Homo sapiens: one gene and its partner. The protein of the gene in region 1 interacts with the protein of each later gene in a pairwise test. Each region holds a gene or a part of one and is shown on either strand. Other genes may lie near its edges. The genes, in order: TRAPPC10 and TRAPPC8.

Region 1 (12,760 bases):
GACTTGTGTCAGAGAAAGGACCTAACTCAGAAGATCTCAACAGGACAGTTGACCTTTTGGCAGGTTTGGGAGCTGAGCGACCAGAAACAGGTACTTTTTTGTATATACCTGTGTGAGTGGTGAGGTGGACAGTAATGAAAATGTCCTTTGCAAGTTGGCACATTTAACCGAAGTTCTAAGAGTAATCATATTACTCACCATTTGGAAAATTATACCCATTGTTAGCTGACTGGATTAAAGCACATGATAGTTTACCTTTTAACAGCATAATGCAATATTAGAAATAGTTGAAGAAATTGGAAGGAGTTTCAGAAATGTAGCTGAGTTTCTCCTGGGCTTAAGGGACTTTATAGCTCATGTTCAAATGCACCACTGTCTCTCTGAATTACAGATGATCTGTTTTTCTAACAATACGACCTGACGATTTTTTTTTTTTTTAAGAGACAGGGTCTCACTCTGTTGCCCAGACTGGAGTGTAGTGGCACAATCTTGGCTCACTGCAGCCTCGACCTCCTGGGCTCAAGGGATCCTCTTGCCTCACCCTCCCAGGTAGCTGGGACTACAGGTGTGTGCTACCATACTTGGCTAATTTTTTAATTTTTTGTAGAGATGGAGTCTCGCTGTATTGCCCAGGCTGGTCTCAAACTCCTGGCCTAAAGTGATCCTCCTGCCCTGGCCTCCCAGCAAATTTTTTAAAATAAATTGGCTGGGCACGGTGGCTCCCACCTGTAATCCCAGCACTTTGGGAGGCCGAGGTGGGCGGATCACCTGAGGTCAGGAATTCGAGACCAGCCTGACCAACATGGAGAAACCCCATCTCTACTAAAAATACAAAATTAGCCGGGTGTGGTGGTGCATGCCTGTAATCCCAGCTATTCGGGAGGCTGAGGCAGGAGAATCGCTTGAACCTGGGAGGTGGAGGTTGTGGTGAACAAAGATTGCTCCATTGCACTCCAGCCTGGGCAACAAGAGCAAAACTCTGTCAAAAAAAAAAAAAAATTCTCCTGGATAATAAGGCTCTTTGAAAGGAGGATTACTCATTGTTTTACGTAGGAATATATGATGAGTATTATTTAGCAAGACTGTTGCTAAAGAATATCTGATGAGCTGAAAACATTCTTAGTAAATTGAATAAATGTTTAAGGGAAAAAATACGTAGTATTTATATTTCATTGTTTCAACTTGAGACCATTTCAGATCACTTCGGAAGTAATTTAATTCATCGGAGTATTTGTAATATATGTTTCTAAAAAAGTTTAGTTCTAAAGATCAGAGAAAAAGCATGACACAAAGCGTTTTGACTATTTTATGAATATGTGAATTGAAAGAGAATGTACATAATCATGTAGTTTCCGTTGGCATTGGCCGGTTTGTAATTTCACAAGAGTCAGATGAGGTCATCTACCTGCAGTATGTGAAGGTGAATGTAAAGTCATGTGACTGGACATGATGAAGATGAAGAGGGACTCTCGTTTCTTTCTGTTTAAGCCAACACAGCTCAGAGTCCTTATAAGAAACTGAAAGAAGCATTATCGTCAGTGGAAGCTTTTGAAAAACACTACTTAGTAAGTATTAACAAGTGTTCAATGTCTGTTCTGTGAATACCTGTCTCTAGAAGGCTTTGCTACATGGCCTGTTGAGTTGGGAAGGAACTGGTGTGGGGGGCCCCTTCTTGTTGGTTTTTTTTAGTTTCTTTGGTACCTGGGGAGTTGTGGACAAAACATGGAGTAGTTCATCAAATGTGTATTAGTGCCCATGGTACCATGCTAGGCATGGAATCATCTTTGAATATTTACCGTTTTGTTCAAATTGGGTTTGCTCACACAGAAATTATAAGAGAGGCTAGTGAATACTTTTCTTTGTAAAAAGGAGTAATTTGGACTTGGGCAGAGCTATTGTATTTGATTTTGAAAGACTTAAATTAGCAAAACTTTAAAAAACGGCGTAGGCAGAAGTGTGGTGGGTCAGCGTCATTCCCGGGTCATGGGCAACTTGAGCGTTTGGTCTGCCCGTAATGGCTGTACCTCTTATACACACAAGTATGAAAAATACCCAGCATGTCACCCACGTGCAGAAAGTCCTTGGAAAAGTTAGATGTTTTGGATGAGTTTGTGGGTTTCTTTTATTATTATGCTTCATAATTTATACACAGGTTACCAATTTTGCTTATATATTACAGAAAAATTCACAAAAATAGATGCAAAGGAAAAAATAATGTTACATTATTAGCAATGTCTTCTGCGGGCTGGGCATGGTGGCTCACGCCTGTAATTCAGCACTTTGGGAGGCTGAGGCAGGTGGATCACTTGAGGTCAGGAGTTTGAGACCAGCCTAGCCAACATGGTGAAATCCTGTCTCTGCTAAAGATACAAAAAATTAGCCGGGCCTGGTGGCGCCTGTAGTCCCAGCTACTTGGGAAGCTGAGGCACAAGAATCACTTCAACCTATGAGGCGGAGGTTGCAGTGAGCTGAGATCTCACCGCTGTGCTCCAGCCTGGGCGATGGAGCAAGACTCTGTCTCAAAACAAAAACCCAACAATGTCTTTTGTGTGAGCTTTAGGTGAATAAATGTAGTATTTGTCCATCATTAAAAGTTCAAGTACATAATTGTGTTTTTACTTCCCCACAGGATTTGTCCCATGCCACCATTGAAATGTATACAAGCATTGGGAGGATTCGATCTGCTAAGTTTGTTGGAAAAGATCTGGCAGAGTTTTACATGTAATTGATTTTGTACTTTTCTTTGAATTCTAAACATACAAATAACACGAGAAGATTTGTTATATATGGAGTTAGTATAAAGTGCACATAAATTTGTAGACTGAAAAGTGTAGATTCTCTTACCCAGTCCTCATAATTTTTTTTTCAGTTTCTTCTGAAAACCAGATGGAGAGATTTTCTGCTTGTTACTCTTAATAACTGTTATTGGTCTTTGAGGTTCTTTTATTTAATTAAATATATACATTTTTGTAACTAAGTTTAATTAAAGAATTATAAGACAGTATAATGGTGAGTAAATTGGCATATAGATTCTTACATATTTTGTTATATAGCATTTCTCTAATTTTATCAAGTATTAAGAGGACTGAAAAACCTCAAGGCCATTGATGTAAAGCTACTGCATGTGTCAGGTTCATGAAAGAGGGATGATCTAGGGATGACTGGAAGAAGGTGTGTACAAAGACTGCAGGGTTTCCATTCCAGCTCCAGCTTTGAAGTTTGATTCCAGAAAAACTCAAAATTTAGCGTATTTCTGGTGTGTTTCATAAAATCAGACTATCAAAGAGAAGAAACCCCAGTGGGTCATGTGGTTACCATTTCAGAGTACTCAAAGGAGATACAAGCTATAAGGAAAAAGATGCTTGTTTTCATTTTCTAAAAAAAAAAAAAAAAAAAGTGATTGAAATGAGATCTTGAAATCTGTACTCAAGTGATTTCATTAGGTGAAGCAAGAAATGAGAATTGATTTGAACTGATGTGAATTGGCTGGAAAGGGATTCTTAGATCAGCTAAGTGAACTTTCTGGTTTTCCGGATGTGGTTGGAGCAGCTTTGCCGATTACCCACTGGTTAACAGCAGAGTCACAGCTAGAATGTAGCTCTCTTGAACTTCCATGCTGTGTATCTGAAGAGGAAGGTGCTCCTTAAGGAAGCAGAGAGGCTTCTCGGGAAAGGGGAGGGGATCCTTGTTGCTCCTGAGGCTTTGACAAGCCCTTATTAATTTGCATTTTAAAGGCAGGCAAGGCCGCACACACCAGTAGTCCCAGCTACAGTGGAGGAGGCTGAGGCGGGAGGATCACTTGAGCTGAGGAGTTTGAGACTGCAGTGAGCTATGATCACACCACTGTATTCCAGCCTGAGTGACAGAGCAAGACCCCATCTTTAAAAAAAACAGTTGTGCTTTAAACTTTGCTTTGGGGGCCAAGTGTGGCTATTTTAATTCTCCGGCGTTCTCTGGAAGCTGGATCCTGTGGAGTGCTCTTTGCCTGAGTTTCCAAGTGGCTCTGTGCTCCCTTCCGCTTGCGCCCTGTAGACTGCTTCTGTGTTTCTGTGCCTTTAGTAGGTAGTGTAGACCCATACTTGGACTTCCTGGCTTCATTGCTGACTAGCAGTGTACTTGTGGACAAGCCCTTCCTTCACCTTCTCTTAGCCTTGGCCCTCTTGCCTGTCAGCTTGAGATCATGAATGATAGGCTCACTTTCTTATCCTGAGATTCAGCTATGAAAGTTCCTCGACATGTGTATAAAGCCAGACCAACGATGTGTTGTGCTCTTATCACCACACGCTCATTTCTCAGATCTTTGCCTGGGAGTCTAATTATGTCGTCCTGAGTAGGTACTCTTTCTCACGGAGTGGGGTGGGTGGAAAAGGGCTATCTAGAGATGTTGAGTCTGTCCTGGCATGGGGTCTGGAGGATGGAGGCCAAAGCGGGAGAGATGGGGTTTCAGTGTGTTGATTATCCCTAGCTGTAATGAAAGCTACTGTTTGTTGACTTTGCAAGGAGGAAAAAGGCTCCACAAAAGGCAGAAATCTATCTTCAAGGAGCACTGAAAAACTACCTGGCTGAGGGCTGGGCACTCCCCATCACACACACAAGGAAGCAGCTGGCCGAATGTCAAAAGCACCTTGGACAAATTGAAAAGTATCCTTTAATGTTTTCATGAAGCAGGAAAATTATTTTCTGTTTATACGGCAACATTGCCCACAATCAATGTTTCATTCACACCTATTATTAAGGAGAGAAAAGTCCTAACTTATACATATGTATTGTATAGAAAATGAATGAAATGTCTAGTCGATTTTTTATAATCTAATTTTGAGCCCTAGTAACTTAAAAAAAAAAAGCCCTTTGGCTTTTGAAGCCTCTGTGAAGGCCGTAGGAGACTTTGCATCCACTTCCCCCCGCACTCCTAAGTATGAGCCTCTCCACGCTCCTTACCTCTCCGCTCCAGCTACCTGCAGACCAGCAGCCTCTTAGCCAGTGACCACCACCTCACTGAAGAGGAGCGCAAGCACTTCTGCCAGGAGATACTTGACTTTGCCAGCCAGCCGTCAGACAGCCCAGGTAAGACCAGTTCTTACAACTTGACTAGGAATATTTTCAAATATTACAGAAGTAAAAAAGAATACAAGATATACCAACCACTTACAGTAAACAGTTGCTAACATTTTGCTGTGTAGCTGACATGTATCTATGTCTTTCACCTGACTTTTTTTTTTATTTTTGCTTTAAGTCAAACTCTAGACCACATTAGATCTTCTAAAAATAAGGACAGTCTCTTAACCACACCCAAAGAATTAATAAGGTTCTAATATCATCTGCTAAGTAGGCCATATTCATATTTCCCTAATTGTCTTAAAGTATTTTATAAATCATTTTTAATGGAGTCCAACAGGATATCACATATTACATGTGGTTGTTAGATCTCAGTTCTCTTTTAATGTAAAAAAAGTTCTTCCCATCTCTTTTTCTTCTTCTTCTTTTTTTTTTTTGAGACAGAGTCTCGCTCTGTTGTCCAGGCTGTAGTGCAATGGTGCCATCTCAGCTCACCACAACCTCCGTCTCCCGGGTTCAAGCAATTCTCCTGCCTCAGCCTCCCAAGTAGCTGGGGTTACGTGCGCCCGCCACCATGCCCTGCTAATTTTTTGTATTTTTAGTAGAGACAGTGTTTTGCTCTGTTGGCCAGGCTGGTCTCAGACTCCTGACCTCAGGTGATCCACCCACCTCAGCCTCCCAAAGGGCTGGGATTACAGATGTGAGCCACCGCACCCAGTCTTTTTCTTCATTTTTTAAGATGGTGCTTTTTTTTTTTTTTAAAATGTAACAGCATTATTGTGATATTCACAAACCATGTAATTCACTCATTTGAAGTTTATAATTCAATGGCTTTTAGTCTGTTTCAGGAATATGTGCAACCATTACCACAGTCAATATTATTGTTCTTTTTTTTTTTCTTTTTTTTTTTTTTTTTTTTGACTATCTTGCTCTCTTGCCTGGGCTGGAGTGCAGTGGCACGATCCCAGCTCACTGTAGCCTCAACCTTCTGGAGTCAAGAGATCCTCTTACTTTGGCTTCCTGAGTGGCAGGGACCACAGGTGTGGGCCACCACACCCAGCTATTTTTTTTCTTCTCTGTCTCCCAGGTTGGAGTGCAGTGGCATGATTGTAGCCCACTGCAACCTCTGCTTTTTGGGCTCAATTGCTCCTCCCACCTCCACCTCCTGTGTAGCTTGGACTACAGGAGCATACCACCATGCCTGGCTAATTTTTGTATTTTTAGTAGAGATGGTTTTGCCATATTGCCCAGGCTGGTCTTTAACTCCTGAGCTCAAGGAATCTACACACCTCGGTCTCCCAAAGTGCTGGAATTACAGATGTGAGCCACCATGCCTGGCCACCACAGTCAATTTTAAAACATATTTATCACCCTAAAAAGAAACCCCATACTGTAATCCCCAAAGTGCTGGGATTACAGGCGTGAGCCACCACGCTGGGCCCCAGATGCTTGTAAGTGAATACACCCCAGCAGTCAATAACCACATCAACCTGACCCTGAAACTTCTAGGAACTTCTGCCTGCCCTGGGAGGCCGGGGCAGGCAGATCACTTGAGGTCAGGAGTTTGAGACCAGCCTGGGCAACATGGCGAAACCCTGTCTCTACAAAAAATTAGCCAGGTGTGGTGGCGGGCACCTGTAGTCCCAGCTACCCAGGAGGCTGAGGTAGGAGGATCGCTTGAGCCCAGGAGAACTGGGCTGTAGTGAGCCAAGATGGTGCCACTATACTATAGCCTGGGCGACAGAGCGAGACCCTGTCTCAAAGAAAGGGGGACAACAAAAGATCCATGTGGGTGGGTTTCTCGGGAGCATCATGACGTTAGTCTGTGGAGTCTTTAACGCGCCCAAGCTGACTGTTGGTAGAGCCGTGACCACATCTGCTGCTGCTTTGTATTTGAGACTATTTGAGTTGTGATGTTCCTGCCAACGTTCCTTGGTATCTCTATACGAATAAAATATTCCACAATCGTTTACTGTTTCTCATGATCTATGGCATCAGTCTTGGCAAGTCCTTTCGTTGATGAATATTTAATAAATACTTAACTGGTCACTTCTGCAGCCTTGTGTATTTTCTAGACAAAACCAAGGTACTTACAGTTCGGTCAGAGAGAGAAGGGCCCAGAGAGAGCATTAGGCTCTCATTCCAGCAGCAACTGTAGACCTGGCTGGTTGCTGCCATCCTGGGCCTGGGGGCACAGAGGGGTCCTGCTTAATCGGCTGACTTTGTAGACTGGCAGACACCTGGGGTTTGTTTCCACATCACAGCAGGGCACTTGGGCATCTTCACTGAGCATGTTTTTAAGTAGGTGAGAAAATATTGGAATCCCTTGGAAATAGCTGTAGAAATTGGACTATTTACAAATTGTCGTTTGAAATTGAGAGGTAGTTGACCTGTATTTCTCTTAGGTTTGTCAAAGCAGACTTGAGAAGGTTAATTTCTGTACATTTTATGATTTCTAGGCATTACGTAGGTATTTGCTAATATTCTGCTTTTGATACAATAGCCTTTGGGGGGTGTGAAGATGGCAGGAGGCTGGGCTCAGCTGCTGTGCCCATCACTGCTGCTTGCTTCAGTCTGCTCTCGGTGATCTTACTGTGTCCGCGGCCTGCTGCTGCTTACTGTCAGGAAGTGTGACTTGGGGAGTCACTTACGATAATGTCTATTTACAGGTCATAAGATAGTGCTACCCATGCATTCCTTTGCACAACTGCGAGATCTCCATTTTGATCCCTCCAATGCCGTGGTCCACGTGGGCGGCGTTTTGTGCGTTGAGATAACCATGTACAGCCAGATGCCTGTGCCTGTTCACGTGGAGCAGATTGTGGTCAATGTCCACTTCAGCATTGAGAAAAACAGCTACCGGAAGACTGCGGAGTGGCTTACCAAGCACAAGACGTCCAATGGGATCATTAACTTTCCACCCGAGACCGCACCTTTCCCTGTATCCCAAAACAGTTTGCCCGCGCTGGAGTTGTATGAAATGTTTGAGAGAAGCCCATCTGATAACTCCTTGAACACGACTGGGATTATCTGCAGAAACGTCCACATGCTCCTGAGAAGGCAGGAGAGCAGCTCCTCTCTAGAGATGCCCTCAGGGGTGGCTCTGGAGGAGGGTGCCCACGTGCTGAGGTGCAGCCACGTGACCCTGGAACCAGGGGCCAACCAGATAACATTCAGGACTCAGGTATGCGTTCAGGGTGGGAACTTGACTTTCAAGTTTGTAAAGCAGGGCCGTGGAGCTTACAAGAACTGTCTGGAGTGTGCTGTGAATTGAGTAGAGTCCTTTGTTCTCCTAACCCTGTTTTTGTCTCTGTCCTTATACAAAAATACACTGATGTTTTCTTTCGTGTTTTATACAATTTTCTGACATTTGATAAATTCTGAGTGAAGTTCTTAACGTAGATATTTGTTCTTAGATTAAGTTAGCTTTTTAACTCATTGGATTATTGGATTCAGTTAGCTTTCCCCCCTGCATATGAAAATACACACCCTCATTTGTTAAAATGAGCTTTCAAAGAAGGTGGTACACTTTCCCACTCAAACTTATTTTCCTTTTGTGGCTGGCTGGGTGTCAAAACTGGTGTTTCTCACCCACTCTAACATAAAGTTTTCTCTGACACAGGATATCCTGTAAGTTCCACTAACTCAACAGGATTTGGCCTGTGGAAAGTACAGCTATTTGTCACATTTTTTAGTCTAGGGCAGGGCTTAAATCTCGTGCTGAATGTCTCTACAATGCCACAAATACAGTTTAGATAAGTTGAAAATACCTTATTAAAGTTAAATTTAAGCATCAGTTACTCAGAAAATCACGAATTGAGAGATTCTGAGGGCCTTGTGAAGAGCCCAAGCTTAGAGGTTTAGGCACAAGAGCAGGGGGTACAAGAGGGAAAGAAGTACAGGCCTTTCTGGAGTTCAGAGAGACCGCTGCACCGCGCTACCGCAGGAAGCTAACTGCAAAACTGGGTGACGTGGTTTCAAATGCCTGATTCTTTGACTCTAGGCCAAGGAACCTGGAACGTATACACTCAGGCAGCTGTGCGCCTCGGTGGGCTCCGTGTGGTTCGTCCTCCCTCACATCTACCCCATTGTGCAGTACGACGTGTACTCACAGGAGCCCCAGCTGCACGTGGAGCCGCTGGCTGGTGAGTGGGGTCCCCAGCCTTTGAGGAGGCGTGCTGCTGGGGCAGTTCTGAGGAGACCTGCTGAGATGCCAGGCTTCTCATAAGTTTTAGCTGTGTCTGCCTTTAAGAGATATTTTGGGTAACATAATGGAAATTTTGCCTGGGAACTAGCTGACTGCCTCTTTTGTTTATCTGAATGTTTGCTTTCCTGTAATTGCTTTTTCATGTTTAATAAACATGGTGTATCTGAAAATAAGAAACACAGAAGAATTAGCTCTGAGAGTGGAAAAAAGAAACTCAAGGTATTTTTTTCTATTGGCTCACTCAACCTAATGGTCAATGCAGAGGACTTCTGGGCCCAAATGTGCAGGGATTTCCCCCTGCCAGCAAGCAAGCAGTCGGTCCTGCAATTCAGTTCTGACCCTGTCTACTGGAGCTGGCGTCAGACACCACAGGGTGAGGGCTCAGTCCCCAAGACAGTCCCCCCCTTCCCATGCCAGCCACCAGCCCAGGGTTCTTTTGCTTGTGCTCCTGACCAACTAGCTAGAAATCAGGGCTCTCACAACCCCCTTTCTGGGTTTGATGAATTTGTTAGAACAGCTCACAGAACTCAGGGAAACAGGTTGACTGGATTATTATAAGGGATATAGATGAAGAAGTGTGGAGGGTGAGGTATGGGGAAAGGGGTGCAGAGCTTCCACGCCCTCCCTGGGCGCCACCCTCCAGGAACCTCCATGTGTTCAGCTGCCTGAAAGCTCTCCAGACCCTGTCCTTTGGTTTTTATGGAAGTGACATTACACAGGCATGATCGATTACACCACTGGCCACTGATGAGCAACTCGACCTTCAGCCCCTCTTTCCTCCCTGGAGGTTGGGTGCCACTGCTGAAAGGCCCGACCCTCTAATCCTGCCCTGGTCATTCTGGTGACCAGTCCTCATCTTGAAGCTACCTTGGAGCTGCCAGCCTCCAATCAACTCATTAGCCTACAAAAAGACATCACTTTGGAGATTCTAAGGAATTTGGGAGCTAGTATGCCTGGAAATGGGGTTGAAAACTACATGTGTATTTTACAGTGTCACATTAGGCCAAGAAGCAGCTAATGTCTACCACAGGGTTTCATAAATATGTATATAATTTCCTGCTTAGAAGTACGTTTCAAATGCTAAACACTAGATTTAGTTAGGATCTATACTCAGATCCCAGCACTTTGGGAGGCCAAGGCTTTGAGACCAGCATGGGTAAGCCAGTCGGGGCAGGATGACAAAACCCCATCTCTGCAAAATAAAAAAATGAAGTAAATTAGCTGGGTGTAGTCGTGCGCCACGGCCTCTAGTCCTAGCTACAGGCTGGAGCCCCAGCTGAGGCTCCTGCCTCAGCCTCCTGAGCCCAGGAGTTTGAGGCCTCAGGGAGCTGTGATTGCGCCACTGTTCTCCAGCGTGGGTGACAGAACAAAACTCCATCTCTTAAAAAAAAAAAAAGTTTTCCTTTGAAAGGGTTGATTAAACTTGTCCGTCTGGCATGGCATTTGAGAAATTCAAAGCTATTGTCCTTTCTGATAAGTTCTAAAATTGGAAGGAGTTGCTATAAACAAATGATTGAAGAACATGTGGCAGCTGAACAAGAGTGAGTGAATGTCTCCTTTGTTCGGGCTAGCAACGATTTATTTATTTGCCTGTTTCTTCTACGTGGAAAAAAATCACAAAGGGCATTTTTCTGTTATTCCCCCATTCCCCCTATTTTTCTGCATTTGTGCCTCTTGTGTGGCCACCAGCAAAGGCTGTCAGATGTGGGACACAGCAGTCAGTCTCTCCAGTGATTCTTCCATTGGAACATTGTGTAGAGAAGCTGAACTCGATTCCCGCAGGGGAGCCGAAGCACCAGCCAGCAGGCCCTGCCCTCCCCATGGCCCAGCGGCTGCAGTGCCAGGCTCATGGCCTGGCTCCTGCTTCCTGCCTAGTGTCCCCTGTCTCTGTCCACTCTCCCCCCGGTCCTGGTATCTTGCCTGCCTTCTGTCTTCCCTGCAGCAGGATTCTCAGAGGCCTCAGCTCACTCCTGCCTCTCATTGCTGTCTTGGAGTGAGGGGGAGCCACCTGACTGCTGACTGTTCTTAACCCAAAAGCCCGTGGCCTGAAGCTGAAAAATCCAGAGAAGGTTTTGAATATTTGAGCAGCACCAGCACAGTCAAGTTTTCTTTACAGTCTCTTCTTAAGCCTCATTATGTGATTCTCTTCTACTACTAATGGGCAGGCAAATTTTGTGACCCTCAGAGACGTAGTCATGATCATAATCCCTGACTTGCTGAACCAAGATGGGTATAAGACTCCTTGACTCACAGGATTCTTTTTTCCCCAGCAAGGTTCTCCTTCAACCCTGTAGTCCACATCATTGAGATGAAAAGTTAGGGCAGAAGGGAATGGAAGTAGAAGGAATTCATGGAGATCCCAAAGGAGCAAATCTTTCATAGTAAAAGAAATAGAGCCCCTTTCACCCCATTGCGGGCCCTGAGATGCTGTCTTCCGGTTGGCAGCGGTGCTGAGCCACGATCTCTTTTCCTTTAGATAGCCTTCTGGCAGGCATTCCTCAGAGAGTCAAGTTCACTGTCACTACCGGCCATTATACGATAAAGAATGGAGACAGCCTGCAGCTTAGCAATGCCGAAGCCATGCTCATCCTGTGCCAGGCGGAGAGCAGGGCTGTGGTCTACTCCAACACGAGAGGTGAGGTGCCGCCCACCCAGGCCCAAGGAGGATGCCCACCTTGCCCTGCACTGTGTGGGTGTGAGGGTGAGCCTGGCCTTGCTGCCATCCTGCTGAGCGCCCCTCAACAGTGTCTGGAGTCCGTGTTCCATAGGAGCCCTGCGGCCTGATGCCTGTGCTGGGGTCCCATCTGAGGTGATAAACTGAGAGTGGTTCACACGCTGAGTGGCCGAGCAGTGCTTGTCTGGCTGAGGATTAGGAGATGGGGGTCACGGCTGGGGTCACGTTCCATGGTGATGCCTGCCAGACCCTGTCCCCCTTGGGCTGGCCCTGCTCCCGAGAAGCAAAAGCAGAGCAGCCCTTGCAGGTGCTGTTGAGAGCCCTGAGCACTCCCATCCTCCCAGCCACGAGGAAGGGGAAGGGGAGGACCCTGCTCCCCTGGGGTGGGGGTGGATCTGCGGATGAGCTGGAACGGGAGAAAGTCATGCAGGGACCTACACAGGACTTGGGTGGGCCCCGTGGGAAATGCCCTTTTCCTCTCTTCAGATTGAGATCAATGATGGGTCTGGGCGCCTGCCTGCCGGCTTTCACACAGGGCTGCTCTGTCCTAGGGGCCTTGTTCTTGGGTTTGCCTGCCAGGTGCGCAGGAGCGGGAGAGGTTGAGCAGTGGCCTCACTGCTGGGCCATCACCTGCTGTAAGGAAAAGGACAAGTGAAACCGAGGGAACAGCTTTGAAGTGACTTTTTCTGTCCTTCGTAGAACAGTCTTCTGAGGCCGCGCTCCGGATTCAGTCCTCCGACAAGGTCACGAGCATCAGTCTGCCTGTTGCGCCTGCGTACCACGTGATCGAATTTGAACTGGAAGTTCTCTCTTTACCTTCAGCC
Region 2 (12,760 bases), on another chromosome or scaffold:
TTTTGATTCTTCGCCATTAATTAAGAACTCTGAAATAACTTCAGCTCCAATCATTTCAGGTTCACTTGTAACCTAAAAAATAAATTTCATAAATTATACATTCCAATGAACAAAGTATCAGATTATTAACACTCCTATATATCAATACTTCAAAAAAATAACACTAATTAAAGTCTGCATTTACTTGGTTTTTACCACATGCTGAGCTCTACACAAAGTGTTTTTATTTCCACAACTAGAGTAGACCCAGGCTGTAGTAGGCACTCAATATATATTTTTTTCATTTTGTTCAGTCCAATTCAACTGAGAAGGATAAGCAATCGATTCAAAGATGCCACTATCCACATGCCTGTAATCCAAGCTACTCAGGAGGCTGAGGCAGGAGAACCGCTTGAACCCGGGAGGTGGAGGTTGCAGTGAGTCAAGATGGCGCCACTGCACTCCAGCCTGGGTGACAGAGCGAGACTCTGTTTCAAAACGGGAGCATATCAAAGATACCGCCACCAAGATAATAAAACCCTGAGAGAAAATACCTAGCTGCTCATAGTCAACAATGGCCAAATGGTCATTTAATTTAATCTTACAATAATAGCAAATTTCTTCTTTTGCTCTGACCAGCCTCTTTTTCAAAATTGGTCAATTACATAGAAAAGATAATGGTGGGCTAAGCATGATAAAGAAAGACAGGTAGACAATAACAGCAGTGGGAGAGAAGGGAAAAAGGCCTGTTTCCCCCAAAGCAATGACATTTCTCTGGTCATGTAGCAAAGCAGAGCTAATTGGCTCATACTGGAGATAAACCTGATCCTCATAAACGCTATTATACTTTCACCATGACATTATTTAGCACAAGAAACAAAAAACTCCCTACATTCCAGTTCAGCATCTTAGTCCATCACCATCTTAGTCCATTTTCTTCATTTCTTAGTCATGAAAAAATCCAGAGTTTGCAATTTATAGAAAAATATTATTTTAAGAAACACTTCATCATACAAATGAAAATATTCACTTAACTTTAAACCTCCTTTAAAATCTCCCATATTGAACAGACTAATATACTTAAAAAGCTAATAAATCTTTTTAAAAAACGTTTCCAAGTTTAACCGCTCATACTGAGTATTCCAGGCACCCAAAAGATTAGAAAAATTGCAGAAGTTGCTAAAATTCAAGTCAGAATACAGCCTGGGAAATCTCATTCAAATTATTAACAATGAATATAAATAATACAAAATATCTTTGACAAATTTAACCAGCAAGACTTATTTATTTATTTATTTATTTTTTATTGTTTGTTTACTTGTTTTGTGGTTTTTTTTGAGACAAGATCTTGCTCTGTCTCCCAGGCTGGAGTACAATGGCATGACCTTGGCTCACTGCAGCCTCAGGTTCCAGGACTCAAGCAATCCTCCCACCTCAGCCTCCCAGGTAGCTGGGACTACAGATGTGTACCACCACATCTGGCTAATTTTTAAATTTTTGTAGAGATGGGGGTCTCACTATGTTGCCTAGGCTAGAGCAAGACTTAAAATAAGGCAATCTTGAAAAAATCAAAACACTTGAGCACCAAAATGCTGGGTTATTTCCCAGTTCCAAAATCCTTTTTTTTTTTTTGCCACATTATTAAAGCATTTAGCAAGGTAGTATAAAAAAAGCAAGTTATATGATAGATACTGGTGACTAAACTAATAAATTAGTAAGTAAATATATCTATTTGTCCAAGTTATTTCATTTACAGTCAGGTGGGTATTAATAAAGAAACTATTTGGCCACATCATTTCTGCTTCAAAATTAAGTATCTTAGATACATAAAGGACTTATTAGACACGGAAATGAAAAGAAAAAAATATAAATGAGGTTTTGAATAGGCAATTCACAAAAGAGGAAAAACAAAGAGTTTCAACTTCACCAGCAATCAATGAAATGGAAAATAAAACAGTTAAGATGGCATTTTAAAAATATCAAATCAACAAAGTTTTTAAGTTAATACTGCTTACTGTCATAAAGATTAGACACCCAAACCCATATGCTGCTTAGTAAGAAGCTCATTGGTATGAACTTTTATGAAACCAGCAGGGCACTACAATACTTTTCCCTAAAATCTTCACTTCATGCCCTGGAATCTTCCCCACAAAAATAATCTAAAGGTAAAAAGCCACACACAAAAAAGTGCACCACAGTATTACCGTGATAGTCAACAAATGGAAACTTGCCAAAAAACTATCAAAGATAGTAAAATAGCTTATGAATCACTCATATGATGGAATATTATGCAAAAATAAAATATTAAGACACTTTGATATCAGAATACGCCTATAAAACAACACAGAATGTAAAAAGCAACATACACAGTATGAAGGAATCCCAAATATGTGGGAAAAACATACAAATGAAAATAACTGGAAGGCCGGGCGCGGTGGCTCATGCCTGTAATCCCAGCACTTCGGGAGGCTGAGGCGGGAGGATCACGAGGTCAGGTCAGGAGTTCGAGATCAGCTTGGACAACATGGTGAAACCCCATCCCTACTAAAAATACAAAAATTAGCTGGGCGTGGTGGGGTAAGCCTGTAATCCCAGCTACTCAGGAGGCTGAGGCAGGAGAATCACTTGAACCTGGGAGGCAGAGGTTGCAGTGAGCCGAGATGGCGCCACTGCACTCCAGCCTGGGCAACAGCGTGAGACTCTGTCTCAAAAAAAAAAAAAATAAAAACAAAATGACTGGAAAGATACACAGCAAAATGTTAAAGTGGTTATTTCTAAATATTATGAAGACAGATGGTTTCACTTCTATTCCTTATGTTTTTATGTATTTTCAATTTTCAAAAATAAGTACATATCATAATTTTTATAACTAAGGAAAAATAAACCAAAAAGAAGTATAGCTCACTGAACAGAGTACATTGAAATGTTACTACAGCATTTGTTAGGCTGTAGCTGAAACATAATTACAAATACCTTTTAATAACTTACTAGTTGTTTAACTTCTTCATTATCCTTTCCACTGAAATCTTTAGGATGAAACTTCCAAAGCAATGACAAATCAGTCAACAAAAGTAGAACTTTCAAAGGGTTTCTAAAAGCCACTTCCACTGTAATTGGTTCTATTAAAAAAAAGGCCTAAATTAATAACTTTAATAAACATCACACCTCATTCTCAGCTTCGATCTTCTAAATGCATCTTGCTTTCATAGCTCTGCATTTCTGCCTAGACTGTCCTTTATTACCTTATAAATGTCCACGTATTCAGGATTCTGTTGTAATACTACATTACCTCCTTGAAAAGATTTCCCCAATTTCTCTGTACTAAAGAATGCCATTCCCTCTTGTATATTCCAACATCACATTGCAAATAGCTGTAGAAGAGTCCCCCTTGTCTGGTTTTATAAATGCAGCTCAGTAAATTATGAGTTCCTAATTTATTTTTGCATCCCCAGCACCAATTATGTGTGCCAAACAATAAATTATCTTCATCATGCTGTAAGTAAAACAAATAAAAAACAGAAATAAAAATTCAAGTATATCACCTTCTACAACTGCAAGTGGAAATCTTGAATTATCTGAGTAACTGTTCAAACAGTATTGTGTGGGATGAAAATTGGATGGAATTACTCCTTTGTTAACCACAGAAACAACTTGTTCCTCAAGTTCTCGCCACTGCTGAGAGGATTCAGAATCATATTCTTGATCAAGACTTACATGAGTAGCTGCTTGTTTTTCACCTAAAAAAAATTTGTTAACAACACGTTTATGAAGACTTGCCCTCAAATAAAACATATTTTAAATAGACATAAGGTACAGAAATAAAAAAATATATATATATACATTCACTCTTGCCTATTTCTAATTCTGAGTGAAAAATATCCTCTCATTAATCCTAGCTTATCTGGATTTTGCTTATAATACTGATGTTCTTTTCCTCCTGACTCTGAAAGAATGTATTTTCCCTCGTGTCCACAAGCAATTTTTATATAAAACATTTCAAATATACAGAAAAGGCATGGAGACTAATATAACAAATATTTGTATACTAAAATTTAACAAATGTCAACTTTCACCTATGATCCCAAATATTTTTAATAAAAAAAAAACATCACAGATAGAGTCGATGTCCTCTCTGCACCACCCCCAATCTTATTACTCTCCTTCGCCCCCACTGGCATCACTTCTTCCCAGAGGTATTCCAAAGTTAAAGTGTATCATTTTCATCCATGATTTTACCACATAAGTATATCTAAAAAATGCATAAAATTAGTTTTTATGTTTGAAACTTATACTGTAATTGACTCTTCACTCAGCATCAAGTTGTGGGAAATGTAGAATTAGCATGAATTCTCATGTACTGCAGCATGAATCCATTATGTGAATATACAAAACCATATCAATTAATCCTCTATTAGGAATTCTATTTCTTTCACTCTTTTGCTACTACAAACAATGCTACTATGAATATGACAATTTAAAAAAAAAATACTAAATCGTATCTCAAGGAGAAACGTTGATTAAATTCAAATATAAGAATGTTTAGAATGACAAAGTTTAACAGCCATCGAGAGCTTTAAAATATATGCATTTATATAAAATATATTTGTATAGATTTAGGGGGTACAAGTTATGTTTTGTTATACAGACATATTTTCTTGGTGGCAAAGTCTGGGCTTTTCGTGTAGCCATCACCCAAATAGTATACATTGTACCCATAAGTAATTTCTCATCCTTCATTCCCTACCCTCCCAAGTCTCAATGTCTATGTGTACACATTATTTAGCTCCAACCCCAGTTATCGATGGGAGCATGTAGTATTTGACTTTCTGTTTCTGAGTTATTTAATGTAAGATAATGAAGAGCTTAATATATTTATACTTTTGTTCCATTATTGCCATTCTAGGGTTCAATCCTAAATAAATCATCCTGCATTTAAAAAAAAGTCTTACAAGAACAGCAGAACATTGGTAACTGTTCTTTACTTCTATGTACATTTGAAAATTTCCATAAGACATTTAAAAAACAAATTTTATCTACAAAGATGTCCATCACAATACGATTTTTTTTTTTTGAGACAGTCTTGCTGGAGCGCAGTGGCGAGATCTCGGCTACTGCAACCTCCGCCTCCTGGGTTCAAGCGATTCTCCTGATTCAGCCTCCCGAGTAGCTGGGACTACAGGCGCATGCCACCACGCCCAGCTAGTTTTTTGTATTTTTAGTAGAGACAGGGTTTCACCATGTTGGCCAGGATGGTCTCAATCTCTTGACCTCATGATCTGCCCGTCTTGGCCTCCCAAAGTGCTGGGATTACAGGTGTGAGCCACCACACCCGGCCACAATATAATTTTATATAAGCAAAAGATGGAAACAGTCTATATATATCAAGTGGATGTTAAAATAAAGTACTTTATAAGCACTGAATAGAATATTTTACTAACATTAAACGTTTATGAAGATTATATAATAACAAAAGCATTCTTTAAGTGAGAAAAGCTGTTGTAATTACAACTGTTTTGTTTTCATTTCATTGTTTTTAGTTTTTAAAGCTGGAAAGAGAAACACCAAAATAGTAGTTATCTTCAGGTGACAGGACAAAAGAAGTAATAGAGAGCTATTCATTTTCCTTTTTTTTTTTTTTTTTTTTTTTTTTTTGAGACAAAGTTTCACTCTGTCGCCCAGGCTGGAGTGCAGTGTCGTGATCTCAGCTCACTGCAACCTCCGCCTCCCGGGTTCACGCCATTCTCCTACCTCAGCCTCTTGAGTTGATGGGACTACAAGCATGTGCCACCACGCCCAGCTAATTTTTTGTATTTTTAGTAGAGATGGGGTTTCACCATGTTAGCCAGGATGGTCTCGATCTCCTGACCTCATGATCTGCCGGCCTCAGCCTCCCAAAGTGCTGGGATTACAGGCATGAGCCAATCGTACCCGGCTGAGCTATTAATTTTCAAATATTCAACTATACATCGTTTTTTAAATGGAGAAAGGAAAAGAAGTTTTTTTTAAATTGTCATTAGGTAATTAGGCTAAATAAAACTTTACTAACCATCCGCTGGTCGTCTGTCATGGCCAAAAAAAACCCGTGTTGCTGAACTGTTAATATACGGTAAAGGAAGCTGTGGCAAAGGACCATCTGGTGACAGCTGACTTACATTCTGAGAGAAATATAAAAGGGAAAAAAAGTAGTTTTTGTGAAAATGGTATTTTTATTTGTTTCCTCGTTTCTTAATACACAAGGCATTAAAAATATGTTAAGCAAGAATATTAAGATATGTAATTACTAGTTTTATTTCTCATATCAGTCATAAAATTTTACAACTCAGAAGCACTTCAGATATTTATTCTGCCTCAAAAGAATCTTACTGAGGTTACTCAGCTAATTACCTGGATGTTAAATATGCAAAACTTATTTTAGTAAGCGTTTTACTTCTTATGACTCATTATAGCATCCTATCTGCCAAAATTCTAACCCATATAATTTCAAATTAATAAAGTCTAGACCCTAAAGGTAGTTATTTTCTGCACGATAGATATAATATGCACTATTCATAGGCCTTGGGAAAAAATTTACAACTTCCCATTTTTTCCATAAAACAATGCTTTATATGTTTATCTGCTTGCCTCAGTGAAACAGTCCTTCTTCCTGTTAATTTTTCTCCATTGCACCATAATAGCCTGTCTACTTTCCACAGATCCATACCCCCTCATCTTTCACAAGGAAAAGAACATAGAATGTCCATCTCCAAAGGATGGTAAAGAGAACCCACTTAAAACCAACTGTAAAATCAGTTGTGAGTCTATAAAAGCATGATGAATAAAGAATCCAGAAAACCTGTGGAATCTTTTTTTTTTTTAAGATTCTAAGAACAGCCACAAATCAAGTGTTCATTGTAATATTAAAATTCTCTTTTCAAGAACTGTGGAAGGGGCAATGTAACCAAGATCTATAGCCAAAAAGCCTAGCCTGCCACAGCTTTTTTATGACTGATAACTACATATATTCTAATAAAACTATCGTAAGATATGGTAATAAATAAATACTTTCACACTAAAATACAGTTTTAATATCTATTCCTGAATGAAAATAAGCAGTCACCTTGTAAACATAAAGATATTCTCTGAGGAAAGCCCCCTGTTGAGCAGCAGATTGTTTACTTTCATTAATTAGAATATGCCTAAAAGCAGACACAGCATTATCCAGCTGTCTAAGAGTATAGGACTGGCGCCCAATAGTGAAATTAATGTGATCCTCTGCAAGAGACCAGCCTTTTCCTTTGTAAACTTGCATGGCTTGACAATAACAGCGTAAAGCATGCTTTTTCTGTAAGAAAATAAACAAAATAATGTATTATACTCCAAATTTGTTTGAACTAGAAAAAACAAATACAAACACACACATAGAAACAATTAAGTAACTGGTTCTTCCTCTAAGGGGGACTGGGATAATGAAGAAAATAAAACTAACATTTATGATAATCCCTTCACAATTATATATGGAATGATATAGATAAAGTTACCTGAGCCATTGTGTGTGTGCGTTAGATAGGAGTAGGGTACCTAAAGGAAGAAAAGGGAGGCCAGACTGCTTTGACATTTACCCACTACTTCTCTGAGCCACAATTTCAAAACGTCAACTTCAGAGGAAAGAGCTTACTTCTCAACTTGACTTTATCTACCTTAAATTCTTTCTGGAAAAAGGCAAGGGATATGTAAACAAACTTCAACATTTAAAATGGTCAGATTTCACTAATATGATGATGAAAAAAATGTTCTCATACTTTAACTAGAAGCATGCTATGTCTACAAAGAGTTTCTCCATATTAAGTAAAACAATAAACACATTTATCAAAGTTTTTTCTTGCCTACGATCAGAGACTTACATTGAATGTATGTGGCCACATATGCCACAGTTTTCCACAGTACAAATAATATATAATAATATATATAGTAGTATATATAATAATATATAAATAAACTTTTTTTTTCTATATTAAAAATTCACATACTGGACCAACCATGCTGATCCCAGCCTGCCTGCCTGCCTGCCTGCCTGCCAGAACTCACTGGCCAGTGTTGTGACCACTGAAAGGTTATGCCTCACACGGTTCAAATAAAGCAGTGGGCTAGGACAGCAGCACAGTAAACACTGCCTGGGCAAGACATGACGGGGTTCTCTGCCAGCATCAGGTGCTACCACAGCCTCCTTTTCAAGGTGCTGTTGGCAAGTGTCAGGGCATACTTCCTGGTATTCAGTGCATTTACTGCAGGACTTAAGAAGAGCAAGAGATTAATAATATACCAGAATGATATACAAGATGTGTGTTCAAAATGGAAAATTGCAAGGAATGCCAAAATCTTACAAGTATTGCAATAAGAATGCAATATTTGTGGCAATAAACATCATCAATGTAAAAAATCAAAAGAGGTACACAGAAAGACAGATCCTGCATGTTCTCACTCATATGTGGGAGCTAAAACAGTGGATTTCATGAAAATAGAGAGTGGACTGGTGGTTACCAAAGGCCAGGGAGAGTGGGTGATAGAGAATGAAGTTGATTAATGGGTACAAATACATGGTTTGATAGAAGAAATAAGACCTAGCGTTAGACAGATCAGCAGGGTGACTATAGTTTACAACCATCTACTCTACATTTCAAAATAGAGAATTTGAATGGTTCTAAGGTGATGGATATCCCAAGTTCACTGACTTGATCTTTATAAATTATATGAATGTATGAAATTATCACGTATTATACCCCAAACTATGTATGTTTATTATGTATCAATTTTTTTAAAAGGAGAGTATTTTCTTCAAGATCGCTTACAGCCGGGAGGGGTGGCTCACGCCTGTAATCCCAGCACTTTGGAAGGCTGAGGCGGGCAGATCATGAGGTCAGGAGATTGAGACCATCCTGGCTATCATGGTGAAACACTGTCTCTACTAAAAATACAAAAAATTAGCCGGGCATGGTGGCGGGCGCCTGAAGTCCCAGCTACTCAGGAGGCTGAGGCAAGAGAATGGCATAAACCTAGGAGGCGGAGCTTACAGTAAGCCAAGATTGTGCCACTGCACTCCAGCCTGGGCTACACTGCGAGACTCCATCTCAAAAAAAAAAAAAAAAAAAAAAAGATCACTTACTAGGGACCTCAGATCCTCAGATGCCAGTTCTCCTCAGAAAGATCAAAGTAACTAATTATCCAAACAGAAAACTGAGAAAAGACAGCCAGGATATGATGAAGAACCCATGGAAAGAAACTAGAGTGCAGGAAAGAAAAACAACAAGAGTTTGGCAGGGATCGAGTGCTGAGGAACACAAAACCCCATGGAAAGGGTAAGTGGGAGTACTTCTCTGCTGCCCTCACCCCTCTGACCATCTGTTCACCATCCAACTGATGGGGAGTCCCTCTGCCCTCATGATGCAGGACAACACTAACAGTGGCAGTTTGAGAACGTCCCAGGGACAAGGATGTGGGTGGCCAGCTCACACAGGCATGCCCGCCCTCCTTTCAGGCCTGAACTGAGACAGGAGATACCACTGCCCTGCCCAGGAAATCTCTGCTCTTGAGTCACCACCGCACCACCAGATCCCTAACATATTCACAACTGCTGTGACATTAGCAAGTTTAGGAGACCAGTGGGTCCCCAGAGAAGGTGTGAGACCCATGGAGATGTAACCGTTAATTTAGGCTGCCCCTAGGGGAAGGGGGGACAGTAGCCTGCCAAAGCCCCACCTTGAGACAAAGGTAATGCAAGCAAGCAACAATCGCTGAAGTGGGCAGCCCCAGCGGCTGGAAATGAACATGAAGAGGGGATCATTTCCCGCCCACCCCATCCACTGTTGTGAACACAGGAGAGGTTCTCCCTGCTGGGAGCTGGCAGACGTGTCCTTGGGGAAAGCACTTTTCATGCTTTTTGTGGTGGCTCCATCACAGCTAAAAGTGAGCCTGGCCGGGCGCGGTGGCTCACACCTGTAATCCCAGCACTTTGGGAGGCCGAGGCAGGCAGATCACAAGGTCAGGAGATCGAGACCATCCTGGCTAACACGGTGAAACCCCGTCTCTACTAAAAATACAAAACATTACCGGGGTGAGGTGGCGGGCGCCTGTAGTCCCACCTACTCGGGAGGCTGAGGCAAGAGAATGGCATGAACCCCGGGGGGCGGAGCCTGCAGTGAGCCAAGATCGCGCCACTGCATTCCAGCCTGGGCAACAGGGAGACTCCGTCTCAAAAAAAAAAAAAAAAAAAAGTGAGCCCATGGCCAGGCACGGTGGCTCACGCCTATAATCCCAGGCACTTTGGGAGGCCAAGGCGGGTGGATCACCTGAGGTTGAGAGTTTGAAACCAGCCTGACCAACATGGTGAAACCCCGTCTCTACTAAAAATACAAAATTAGCCAGGCGTGGTGGCGCGTGCCTGTAATCCCAGCTACTCGGGAGGCTGAGGCAGGAGAATCGCTTGAATCCAGGAGGCAGAGATTGCAGTGAGCCGAGATCGCACCATTGCACTCCAGCCTGGGTAACAAGTGCAAAACTCTGTCTCAAAAAAAAAAAAAAAAAAAGTGACCCCATGCCAACTGGGCTTGCAGGAAGGGCAAGGCCCAATTCCCCCTCCCTACAGAGAAGCATCCGGGCAACAGAAGGTGGACAAGCTGCAAAGCTGTTTACTCTGTACTAGAGGAAGAAGTTCCGCCCTGAGCCCATTTTGGTGGCAGCTGCCCGTTTTGGTGGAAGTGTACTCTGGTCAGAGCCTAATGGACAAAGTCTACATGAACTGATGGTTGTGAGCCCTCTGACCGGGGCGTGATAAGGAAGCTTCTGTCTGCTCAGGATGAGCAACTGGTGCACCCCATCCCAAAAAGGATCAAATAATCTATAAAGTAAATATTATCAGACTAACAACAGACTTCTCAGAAGAAACCTTACCAACAAAAAGAGATTTGGGGCCTGTTTTTACCCTTTTTAATGACAAATAAAAACAAAAACAAAAAAACTACTAGCCAAGAATTTTACAGCCTGCCAAACTAAGCTTCATAATTGAAGGAAAAAATAGTATTTCTCAGACAAGAAAATGCTAAAGAAATTTGTCACCACCCGACCAGCTCTACAAGAAATGCTCAAAGGAGTTCTAAACACGGAAACAAAAGGATGATACCTGCTAACCATAAAGATACACGTAAGTACAAAGTTCAAAGATCCTATAAGGCAGTTATACAATTGGGACTACAAAGCAACTAACAACATTATGACAAATACAAAACCTCACTTATCAATATTAACTTTGAACAAAAATAGCTTAATTGTTCTACTCAAAAGACAAGATCCAAGCATATGCTATCTACAAGAGACCTATCTTCTGTGTAACGAGATCCACAGGCTCAAAGTCAAGGGGTGGAGAAAGATCAATCACGCAAATGGAAAACAAAAAAGAGCAGGGGTTGTTATTCTTGTTATCAAATAAAATGGACTTTAAACCAACAACATAAAAAAAAAGACAAAGAAGGGAATTATATAATGATAAAGAGTTCAATTCAACAAGAAGATTTAACTAGCCTAAACATATACACACTCAATACCAGAGCATCCAAATTTATAAAACAAATACTACTAGACTGAAGACAAGACAAGCAGCCATACAGTAATACTGGGGGACTTCAACACCCCACTGACAACACTAGACAGATCATCGAGGAAGAAAACTAACAAAGAAACTCTGGAATTAAATCGGACTTTTGACCAAATGGACCTAATAGACGTCTACAGAAGATTCCAACTGACAACTACAGGATATACATTTTTCTTATCTGTGCATGGAACATTCTCTGAAGTTGACCATATACTGGGTCACAAAGCAAGTCTCAAAAAATTTTAAAAAGTCAAAATCATATCAAGGATCTTCTCAGACCACAGTGGAATAAAATTAGAAATCAATACCAGGAGGAACGCTCAAAACCATACGAGTACATGGAAACTAAGCAACTTGGTATTGAATGACTTTAGGGTAAACAATGAAATTAAGGCAGAAATTTAAAAAAATTTTGAAACAAATGAACACAGAAACACAACATATCAATACCTCTTGGATACAGCAAAAGCAGTGTTAAGAGGAAAGTTTACAGCACTAAATGCTTATATCAAAAAGACAGATCTCAAATTAATAATGTCACATCTAGAGGAAACAGAAACAAGAACAAACCAAGCCCAAGCTGGCAAAAGAAAAGAAATAAAGATCAGAGCAGATCTTTATTCTTTAAATGAAATTGAGACCAAAGAAATCATACAAAGAATCAACAAAATAAAGTTATTTGAAAACACAAACAAAATTGATGAGACTACTAGGCAAGATTAAGCAAGAAAAAGAAGAGATGATTTTAATAAGCACAATCAGATATGACAAAGGTGACATCACAACTGATACCACAGAAATACAAAAGGTCCTCAGAGAATACTATGAACCTCTATGCACACAAACTAGAAAACCTAGAGGAAATGGGTTAATTCCCAGAATCATACAATCTCCCAAGACTGAACAAGGAAGAAACTCAAATCTTGAATAGGTCATTAAGTAGTTACAAAATTCCATCAGTAATTAAAAAAAAAAATAAATAAACAACCAAATGAAGCCCAAGATAGCTGGATTCAAAGCCAAATTCTACCATATGCACAAAGAAGAGCTGGTACCAATTTTACTGAAACTATTGAAAAAAAAAATATATATATATATATATATATATATATATATTTTTTTTTTTTTAAGGAAGAAAGATTCCTCCTTAACTAATAT

Evidence for each region.
Region 2: the proteins of TRAPPC10 (region 1) and TRAPPC8 interact in a two-hybrid assay, tested with the Homo sapiens proteins (one study listed by BioGRID).

Annotation. Positions count from the first base shown.
Region 1 is NC_000021.9:44,075,064-44,087,823, forward strand, and holds part of TRAPPC10 (trafficking protein particle complex subunit 10), read left to right. Parts: coding exon 1-90; intron 91-1,385; exon of another isoform or gene 1,386-1,488; coding exon 1,489-1,565; intron 1,566-2,629; coding exon 2,630-2,721; intron 2,722-4,500; coding exon 4,501-4,641; intron 4,642-4,951; coding exon 4,952-5,064; intron 5,065-7,724; coding exon 7,725-8,239; intron 8,240-9,058; coding exon 9,059-9,200; intron 9,201-9,524; coding exon of another isoform or gene 9,525-9,635; intron 9,636-11,738; coding exon 11,739-11,897; intron 11,898-12,635; coding exon 12,636-12,760. UniProt on the Homo sapiens protein: Specific subunit of the TRAPP (transport protein particle) II complex, a highly conserved vesicle tethering complex that functions in late Golgi trafficking as a membrane tether.
Region 2 is NC_000018.10:31,867,405-31,880,164, forward strand, and holds part of TRAPPC8 (trafficking protein particle complex subunit 8), read right to left. Parts: intron 7,301-12,760; coding exon 7,076-7,300; intron 6,135-7,075; coding exon 6,026-6,134; intron 3,717-6,025; coding exon 3,522-3,716; intron 3,099-3,521; coding exon 2,968-3,098; coding exon of another isoform or gene 2,956-2,967; exon of another isoform or gene 2,953-2,955; intron 73-2,952; coding exon 1-72. UniProt on the Homo sapiens protein: Plays a role in endoplasmic reticulum to Golgi apparatus trafficking at a very early stage. Maintains together with TBC1D14 the cycling pool of ATG9 required for initiation of autophagy. Involved in collagen secretion.